Linked DNA regions of Homo sapiens. The protein of the gene in region 1 purifies or fractionates together with the protein of each later gene. This does not show direct contact. Each region holds a gene or a part of one and is shown in the gene's direction. Other genes may lie near its edges. The genes, in order: DCPH1, PYGB and UPB1.

Region 1 (3,655 bases):
TGTTCTGACCTGTGTTAGTTTTGCCTGTTTTTTAACTTTACTGAAATGAAATGATACAGTGTATAGTTTTGTGTCTGGCTTCTTTCACTCATTTTTATGTTTGTGAGACTCATCCATATGTTACAATATAATTATAGATCATTCATTCTCATTGCTTTATAATATTGCATTTTATGAGCATATTACAATCTGTTTACTTCGTTGTGATGGATATTTGAGTACTTTTCAGTTTGGAGTTGTTAGGAAGAATGCTGCTATAAACATTCTGACACTTTTTTGCTGAACATATGTATGAATACATCTGTTGGATATATCCCTCCCTAGAAGTGAATCACTGGGTCATAGTGTGTGTACATACACAGCTTTAGTAGATTCTAAAATAGAAAACATTCTAAAATGAGAATTTATATATAGTTATGTGAGTTTACTCTCTTAAATACGAAAATAAGGCTCATTCTTAATATGAGATGTGACTTTAATGAATGGTTTGTTAATAAAACATTAGAACATGTTTTATTAGAACTTTCTGTAAAGGGCCAGGTAGTAAATCTTTTAGGCATAGGGGCCATGTGGTCTCTGTTGCAGCTGCCGAACCTGCCATTGTCGTGTGAATGCAACCTTAAATAATATGTAAGAATGAGCATGGCTGTGTTCTAAAGAAACTTTATTCAGCGGACACCGAAATTTGAATTTCATGTGTTACAAAATACTACTTTTCTTTCACTTTGTTTTCAGCCATTCAAAAATATAAAAACCACTCTTAGCATGTGAGTCAGACAGAACAGGTGGTGGGCCGGATTGGGTCTGTGCATCCGAATGATTTTTATCCTTTTAAGTCACCTTGAGAGACTGACTGATTTCAGCGGTGCTGCCATTGCTAAAACCATCTTTGAATTATTTGGAACTTCTTTCAGAGCCAGTTTACATGCCTCAAAATGAAAATTAGTCTTCCTGTATTTTTACTCATTTTTGATTAAAAAAAAAGTTTTTATCCAATTTGATCACACACCTCATTCTACTGAAATCACTCCGAGTGACTTTTGGCTGTTTCCAAAAATAAATTGACTCCAAAGGATGAAGATATGTGATCACTGACAGGAGGTTTAATGATGTGCCATAGGTTCTGAAGAAAATTCCTAAAGAGGAATTCCAAAAGTGCTCTGAGCAATGGCAGCGCCCTTGGAATAAGGGTGTAGCTTCCCGAGGTGACTGACTGGCTGGAAGGAGGCAGCCATCATTTGGATGTTTAAATACTGGTATGTTATTTAAAAAAACAAAACAAAACAAATCAAGCCGATTACATCAGTGTTAGATTGTTTTTACCCTAACATGAATGACCCATGGAAAAAGTAGCTAATTTGGAAGACCCAATAATCTGAATGTCTTTTATATTCAATTCAGTAAAGATTATTATATTAGTATTTATATCTCCTTAGTTATGATTTTCTTAGGCCAATATAATATGATTTAATCTCTCACTGGAAAACATGAAGGTGTAGCCATGCCACATATATCACCTTTGGTTAAAGTTGCCCAAAAATACCTAAAATTAGTGATAAAAAATTATCATTCTTCTAAAACTTACAATAGTATTGTCTGATTTATCTTAAGTACTCATTGTATTTCCATCATACTCTGTGTTTCATTCTGTTAATGATTGCTGCATTGTATTCAAATATTCTGTTTATATTCTATACATTTGTTACTGGAACTCTGCCACATCGGTGGTTAAAAAATGTTTGTTGAACTAAAGCAGTTGTCTTGAAATTTATCTTTCTCCTTCTTGTGCCCTGGAATCCCTGCTAGGTAGATAATTATGAGCATAGTCACTATCACTATTTAATATGTCCAGAAAAATACTTGATTTGGGAACTTTTTTGACAATTAAAATGAGTTTGAGAGATTTTTGTGTAATTTGATTATTTAGTATTAAGTTTTTCTAGTTAATTAGATAAATGTTATATCTAGTTTCTGTTAGCACTGATTATTGAGACTGTATGGTGCTATTTTCTTTCAAGAACTGCAGTTATCCAAATGTACAAACTAAAATGTTTCACTTTGTTTTTCTCCTACTTTAGTCCACCAATCGATTACTTTGATGTATTTAAAGAATCAAAAGAGCAAAATTTCTATGGGTCACAGGAATCCATCATTGCTTTATGTACTCACCTGCAACAATTGATAAGAACTATTGAAGACCTAGATGAAAATCAGCTGAAAGATGAGTTTTTTAAACTTCTGCAGGTAAATGTGATCATTAATCTTCTGAGTATGTTTTATTTAAACAGAAAATAAACTGCTATACAGTTAACAAAACATGTAAATATTTTTCTTTGCTATAATTGATGATTTTTTATCTAGTGGTGTTAAAAGATGAAAATCCATTTAATTGCTAGAAATGGGTTTGAAATATTTTTCTGCTCTCACTGGCTATGATTTTAGTGGCAAAGAAGTTATCTGACTTCCTAGCTTCTGTCATACTTGAGAGAATACTTCATAGTAATTTGCTTAGCTTTTGTCATGCTTGAAAGAATTCTTAATAGTAATTTGGTCTCCCAGCTGACTTGGGTGTGTGTTGGCTCTGTGGCTAATTTGTGTTTGGACCTGAGGCCTGTCACTTAATTTCTCTGGGCCTCAGTTTCCTCCTCTGTTCAGTGAGGATAATGTGTACTGTGTAATTTGATGTGAGAATTCAACTAGATGCTTGCATGTGAAGTGCTGAGCACAGAGCCTGGGATACAGCCTGCTGTTAGCATCGGTAGGTGATAATACTCGGGTATTCAGTTGGCCCATTAATACAGTTTCATTACATTTCTTTATCTTGTATTCAGTTTAGTTTTTAATTCATGCAAACATCCTGAAATTTACAACACATTATTAGAATCAGAACTATTAGGAGACGTGGTACACAGCAGTATCCCCAGCCCTCACATTTTCCAGAAAAAGTGAGGAAGACTTTCAAAAAGAAATGTTAGAAAGTGCTATGAAGAGAAATAAAGCAGGAAAAGGGCGTTGGGAATGTTGGAGAAGGGATCAGGGCTGCCAGGGAAGGGTCCATGGAGGCTGAGGCCACAGACCTGAAGGCAGGGAAGGAGTAAGTCAGGTGTATGTCTGCGGAGTACATGGAGAGGTGAGAAAAATTGCAAGGAAACCCTGTAGTTACTGAGAGGTAGCGGGGTGGAAGGGACACAGAACGGCTTGTATTAAATAAATTTTTACTAAAAGTGAAACAGAAGCCATCAGAGGGTTTTGAACAGAGAGGTAATGCTATTTGACTATTTCAAGGAATGTTTCTGAGAATAGACTGCAGGGGCTGAAGGTGGAAATGGGGAGAGCTGGTCTGAAAATGACTTGGGGAGGGAGGTTGGGGCCAAGTTGGTAGCATAAGAGTTAGTGACATCACCAGAGCCTGGGTGTTCTTTGAACATAGAAGCTACAGAACTTGCTAACAGATTATACCTGGAGACGAAGCCCTGGTGAGACCCCGAGGGCAAGCAAAGTCACAAATAAAGGCATATTTTGAGTTCAAAACAAAAATTGTCAGGACATTGTTTTGTTTTTTGAGACAGAGTCTCGCTCTGTTGCCCAGGTTGTAGTGCAGTGGCACGATCTCAGCTCACTGCAACCTCCGTCTCCCGGGTTTAAGCAATTCTCC
Region 2 (3,655 bases), on another chromosome or scaffold:
CCCTTCACTCCCTGACCCCAGTGAGGGGACAGTGTCCTTGGGGTTAGAGGCTGGACTCTGCATAGTACAGTGGCCCTTGGAAGGAGTGAGCCTCGATCTTGAAGCCTCACACTACAGCTAAGTGAGATGGTTGAGACCATGGCCGGGAGGAGGGCGTGGTCTTAAAATGCAACCTCCTCCTCCCTGGCGAGCAGCTCCCTTCCCATGTGCCTCAGAATGAAAGTCACCACTATTCCATTCGGTTAGAAAATGGTTTATTTAATATCATTTGGGGCCTAAAAGTCACAAATAAAGCTGGTCTGGGATTAGAATCAAAAGATTTGTAGCATCAGAATGTACAACCCCAATGAATGTGTGCATGACGGGTAGTAGAGATATCCTTGGGGTGGGAGTGGCAAGGGGGGTTGGGCCTCAACGGCAGGTGCAGCCTCCAGGGCTCGTCCATGGCGTCTGTAAGACTCATGTATCTCACCATGGAGAAATTAACCCAAAACATAAACGCAAGGAGCTGCTGTCCATGACACGCACAGCGATGCGTTTAGTGGGAATGTGGACTCATATCTGCAGCTTGCTTTAAATGCACCCCAAAATCAATGGATTGGTGGACGGAGAAACAACAGACCATTTACAGCACCTAGGTGTGGGTGCATAATGTTTCTGCATGTTTGAAAACGCTCATAATAAAATGTTGGTAAAGAAAAGAAATGGCTAAAAGTAACCTAAAACGGACTCGGATCCATTGCTTGATTTGTGGAGATGCCCTCTGCAACCTTAGAAAGGCGCCTTTCTCCACTGCCTCCGGACAGCTCTGCCCCAGCCCTCCGCGTGCCTGAGCTCCAGGGCAGTCCAGTCCATGCACATGTTGATGCTCTGATTCATTCTGGCCCCCAGCAGTCCCCATGTCACGTGTGGGTTTATAAGGCAGAAGCTCAGAGGCTCCCCTTCGCCTAGCTGGTGTTAGGGTTTCCAGCAGGAAGGTATTGGTGGTGGTTTTTGTTTTACCAGGGAGACATTTTTCCTTCTGGTGGTCCTCGTTCCTGTAACTCTTGCAACTTTGTGTGATAGTTTAGGATGATCAGTAAGTGAAGCTCACCCCTCCTCCCATCCCCTTTTCATGGGAACTGTTCAGATTCAGTGGGTTTTTAGTTGGCTTTAGCCATGGAAGAAGTAAATACAGGCAGGGTTGGCCAGCAGCATGTGGCCAGAGGGGCCGCAGGCCAGCCTGCTTGGCACCCTGGCCAAGGGGGCAGGGAGGCCCTGCAAGGGAGACTCAGGCTGCCTTTGTATGTGGGAAGCTGTTGCTTCTGCCGACGACTCCTGGACTAACTCTGCAGATGGCCAGGCCCTGGTGTTGGGGAATCTCACAGCGGACAAGGAGACGCCACCAGAAGGGTCTTGCTGGGAGTACCATGGGGAGGTGCCTGCTGTGCGGAGGGGCCTGCTGTGCGGAGGGGCCTCCGGAAGAGCACAGCCCAGACAGTCTTGCTCGTGACTCTTGGCGTCTGTGTAGGAACCATGAAGAGGAAATCCCTCAGTGTAGCATACTAGGGCTGCCTGTTCATTCTGAAGAGAAGAGACTTGATCTCATTTCAGTTTTAGTAATTGAGACTTCAGAATCCGCCCTTGCTGCTGTACCAGATGGAGTTACTCTGTCACGTGGTGGTAAAGCAGCCCCCTAGTGCTTCTGTGCAAGGGTGGCTCGAATCTGCAGGGCCGCTTTTAGTGTGGGGGTTGGTTTCATGTAGTTACTCGTCTCTAGTGCCACTGGGCACAGATTCTGGGAATAAGCTTCTTCTTGGAAGCCCTCCCGGAACAGCTTGTCTTCCTGGGTGCATCCAGGGCGTCCTCACTGCCAGCTGCCAACTTGGCCCCAGCACTTGCGGATTTGCAGTGTCACTTTCTTTCTTTTTTAATTTTAATTTAATAATTTTTTTTTAGAGATAGGTCCTGCCCTGTCGCCCAGGCTGGAGTGCAGTGGTACAGTCATAGCTCACTGCAGCTTCGACCTTGTGGGCTGAAGCGATCCTCCCACCCTGGCTTCCCAGAGTGCTGGGACTGTAGGCGTGAGCCTCCGCCTGGCCAGTGTGTCCCCGTCAAAGCAATGTCTTCTAGTGATTCTTCTATAACAGCTTTATTGAAATAGAGAGTCGATTTCAGTATATTCAGAGTTGGATAACCGTCCCCACTGTCTATCTTGAGAACATTTTCATCCCTCCAGAAAGAAGCCCTGCACCAATTTGCAGTCACACCCAGCCCCTGACAGCCTCTCACCCGCTTTCTGTCTCTGTGCAGGTGCTTGTTCTGAACATTTTCCTGTAAATAGCCTCGTGTGATGCGTGGTATTTTTGTCTGTCCTCTTTCACTGAGTGTAGGTTTTTCAAGCTCCATCCAGATCGGAGCATGTGTCAGTCAGTGGTTCTTAGTGTCTTTCTTTTTGGGCACGTGTTTCTAAATTTTGAGTTTGTTACTTTAGTGTCCACTGTGTTCATTTTACCCACGTGGGCTTCGCCAGAAGTGGGAATCCCGACCTGGTAAGTGGCTGTAGGTAAATTTCAGTGCCAGGCACTGTGTGATCTCGACCGCACGGTCTGCTGGGTCCAGGACAGGGCGGTGGCCTGGGACATCTGCGCTGAGGGTGCCCTCACAGCTGGCTTCTTTCCAGGTAGAGGAGGCCGATGACTGGCTGCGCTACGGCAACCCCTGGGAGAAAGCGCGGCCTGAGTATATGCTTCCCGTGCACTTCTACGGACGCGTGGAGCACACCCCCGACGGCGTGAAGTGGCTGGACACACAGGTACCTGGGCTGAAATGTCTGCGGGCAAGGCTGGAGCCAGGTGAGGGGGCTGCTGCGGCTCATTTGTAGACAGCTCAGCTTCTTTTGGCTTGGGGGGCTTGCTGCCTCCCTGGAGGACTTAAGGTAAAAGCCGGGGGAGGTTTATTCTCCTCACTCCCCAGTCTCTTACACTTTGATGGGAGCTTCCCAAACAGTGGAAGCGCTGAGCACAGCAGCGAGACTCCATGGGGGAAGCCCCGCTGGGCAGGAGCTGTGTGTTGGGGCTAAGAATGCAGCTGGGCGTCCACTCACAGCCAGATGCTCACGAGAACCCCGCTGCTTAAGGGCAGGCAGGAGGGTGTTCTGATGGGATGGGGGCACGGACCCCCAGGGTGGGCGAAAACAGCTCCCACTATCTCTGTGGAGCACACGACAAGCTCGCTTGGCCTCCTGGCGCCATACGTGGCCCATGGCTCTCAAAGCGTCAACTGTCAGAGCCCCTGGAGTGTGTGCGAGGCCTGGGTGACATCCGGGGATGGGGCCAGGCCCTCCTGCCCAGCAGGGTGCTGATGGGGAATCAGGGCAAGAGCCTAGAGTGCTCGGCAGCGACGGGTGCCAGGCACGCAGAGGCCACGTGAGGGAGCACCCAGTCCAGGCTCCGGGCAGCTGTAAGCCGGGATGACTGGGGCAGGGCAGGGGCTGGCAGGAGAGGCTGCAGGAGAACGTGGGGGCATCGGTGAGACTCAGCCACCTGTGATGGAGAAGGACGGGCAATAACAGGAGAGCCTGGAGGCTGGGTGGTCACTGGTGTGCAGAGGGAGTTGTCTTGACTTTGTAGGACACAGTTTTAAATCAAATACATGGGCTTCGAGTGGCTGGGGC
Region 3 (2,714 bases), on another chromosome or scaffold:
AGCTTAGCTAGGCCACAGTCACCAGTAATTCAATCAGACACTAATCTAGGTATTTCTGTGAAGGTATTTTGTAGATGTGACAGAAGTCCATTCCCAATTGACTAAGTAAGTGAGATTATCTCAGATAATCTGGGTCAGCCTGACCTGATTAGTCAGAAGGCCTAAAGAACAGAGCTAAGGGTTTCCCTGAGGAAGAAATTCTGCCTGAGGACAGCAGCCCAGTGCTTGGCGAGAGTTCCTGACAGTCTGCCCTTCTGATAGCCTGCCTCACAGAGTTTAGACATGACTAGCCAGCTCCTACAATCACTGAAGTCAATTCCTTGCAATAAATCTCAATATATCCCCTACTGGTTCTGCTTCTCTAGTTGAATCTGACTGATACAGATTTTGGTGCCAAAAGTGGTTCTAGAAAAATAGAATCTTAAAGATGAGTTTTCTGCATTGGTTCTGGATTTTTTTAGAATTCTTCCCTAGTTTGATTGAACTTAAAGGCATCAATGACTCTATTTCCATAGAGTCAGGGTAAAGAGGGTAGTTGGTAGTCCATGGCATGGTGCAGCAATAGTTATTTATGTGCGAGACTAGCCATCAGCCATCAGTTTGTGCCCAGAGTTCCAGCCTGCCCTTTCTGATGGCTTGTCCTGTGGATATCAGACTTGCCTGACCAGATTCCATCATCATAGAAGGTAATTTGTTGCACTAAATCCTTTTATATCTCTATCCATCACCTACTAATTCTGCTAGTTCTGCTAATGTGGTTGAGCTCCATTTTACACATCAGATTACTCACTTCTCTACACCTTGGTTTTTACATCTGTAAAATGGGACTGGGCCAGGTGTGGTGGGGTGGCTTATGCCTGTGATCCCAGCACTTTGGGAAGCCAAGGCAGGTGGATCACTTGAGGTCAGGAGTTCAAGACCAGCCTGGCCAACACGGCGAAACCCCGTCTCTACTAAAAATACAAAAATTAGCTGGGCATGGTGGCGCATGCCTATAATCCCAGCTACTCAGCAGGCTGAGGTATGAGAATTGCTTGAATCTGGGAGGCAAAGGCTGCAGTGAGCTGAGATCACGCCACTGTGCTCCAGCCTGGACAACAGAGTGAGAGCCTATCTCCAAAAAAAAAAAGGGGTGGGGACCATATTCCTGCTTTATGTCAAGACACTGGTAAGAGACAGACTAGATGGGCCAGGGAGCCCCTTGGCAGTTATCAGTGCAGCGCCTATTTAGCCCTGTCCCTGAACAACACGGCAAGAGCCCAACCTGCCAAGTCTCAAATAGCAGTTAACCAGAGTATCGGGTTGGAGGTGGGGTTGAGATTCTGTAATTCCCCGCTTATTGTTCCCAATCAGAGAAGGCAGCCAGAGAAGGCAGCTTCATCCCTTCACTGGCCCAGCAGCTGAACTATATGGAAACCTCCATGTCAGGGCTAGGGTACTCCTGGACAGCCACCAAGGATGAGAAACCCTGATGGAGCTGCCTGGCCACAGCTCTGCGGTAACTTCCTTGAACTCTCTGTGCTGCAGGTTTTCACTTTACCTAATGGCCCTTCTTGCACCTTTAAAAAAAAAAAAAAAAAATTCCAGTCCTACAGACACAGTGAGCTTTTTTGCCTGTTCCTTTAGCTTTCAAAATTTAGTGTCAGCCAAGGCGGGCAGATCACAAGGTCAAGAGATGGAAACCATCCTGGCCAACATGGTGAAACCCCATCTCTACTAAAAATACAAAAATTAGCTGGGTATGGTGGCGCACGCCTGTAGTCCCAGGTACTCAGCAGGCTGAGGGAGGAGAATCACTTGAACCCGGGAGGCGGAGGTTGCAGTGAGCCGAGATCACACCACTGCACTCCAGCTTGGCGACAGAGTGAGACTCCGTCTCAAAAAACAAAACAAAACAAAACACCTTAGTGTTTTTGGTTTCTAGAGGGTGTAATCAACCTAATACAGAAGCCAGCTTAGGTGACAAATTGGTACATTTGTGAAACAGGCATGAATAAATGGACCACAACTCTTTGATTATCTGCAACTCTCATTGCCTGGAAACAGAACAGTCAGGCCCATCTTAGAGTATGCAGGCCCTGTACAGCCAAGGTCATTTCAAGGTTTAACTCATCCCTGGAACATGCAGATGCTCAGTAAACATTTGAATGAATCTGTGGTGGAGGTTTTTGCTTCCTGGTGATCATTGCTGATGCTACAGGGCAGTCTCTCAGACAAGAAATTGCAGTGGTTCAGTGTACATGGCCTGCAGGCCTGTGGGCCCCTGTGCAATCTTGGATGAAGCCTTCTGACCCCTCAGTTTTCTCACCGGTAAGATAACAGGTGGCTGGGCTCAAGAATTTCTCCCTAGAAATTCTCAGTTCTGGAAGGCCACCTTCCTGCCAGGCTATAGCTTTATTGCCGGAATCTGGGGTGGAGTAGGTGAACTTCAGTGTGCCCAAAAGAAAAAAAGGAGGCTGTGCACAGTGGCTCACATCTGTAATCCCAGCACTTTGGGAGGCTGAGACAGGGGGATCACTTGAGCTCAGGAGTTGAAGACCAGCCTGGACAACATAGACCTTGTCTCTATAAAATTTAAAAAAAATTAATAGGAAAAAAAGGGCTAAGGCATTATTAAATATAAACCAGACCACGTATTAGACCACAAAAAATTCCCAGTAAACTTAAAGATTAAAATCATAAAAGTGTATTTTCCCATCACAATGGAACAAAAC

Evidence for each region.
Region 2: the proteins of DCPH1 (region 1) and PYGB fractionate together in Homo sapiens (co-fractionation; one large-scale study listed by BioGRID). This does not show direct contact.
Region 3: the proteins of DCPH1 (region 1) and UPB1 fractionate together in Homo sapiens (co-fractionation; one large-scale study listed by BioGRID). This does not show direct contact.

Annotation. Positions count from the first base shown.
Region 1 is NC_000006.12:151,462,375-151,466,029, forward strand, and holds part of DCPH1 (damage-control phosphatase ARMT1), read left to right. Parts: intron 1-2,078; coding exon 2,079-2,244; intron 2,245-3,655. UniProt on the Homo sapiens protein: Metal-dependent phosphatase that shows phosphatase activity against several substrates, including fructose-1-phosphate and fructose-6-phosphate.
Region 2 is NC_000020.11:25,271,930-25,275,584, forward strand, and holds part of PYGB (glycogen phosphorylase, brain form), read left to right. Parts: intron 1-2,662; coding exon 2,663-2,794; intron 2,795-3,655. UniProt on the Homo sapiens protein: Glycogen phosphorylase that regulates glycogen mobilization. Phosphorylase is an important allosteric enzyme in carbohydrate metabolism. Enzymes from different sources differ in their regulatory mechanisms and in their natural substrates.
Region 3 is NC_000022.11:24,526,239-24,528,952, forward strand, and holds the end of UPB1 (beta-ureidopropionase), read left to right. Parts: 3' UTR 1-2,152; downstream 2,153-2,714. UniProt on the Homo sapiens protein: Catalyzes a late step in pyrimidine degradation. Converts N-carbamoyl-beta-alanine (3-ureidopropanoate) into beta-alanine, ammonia and carbon dioxide.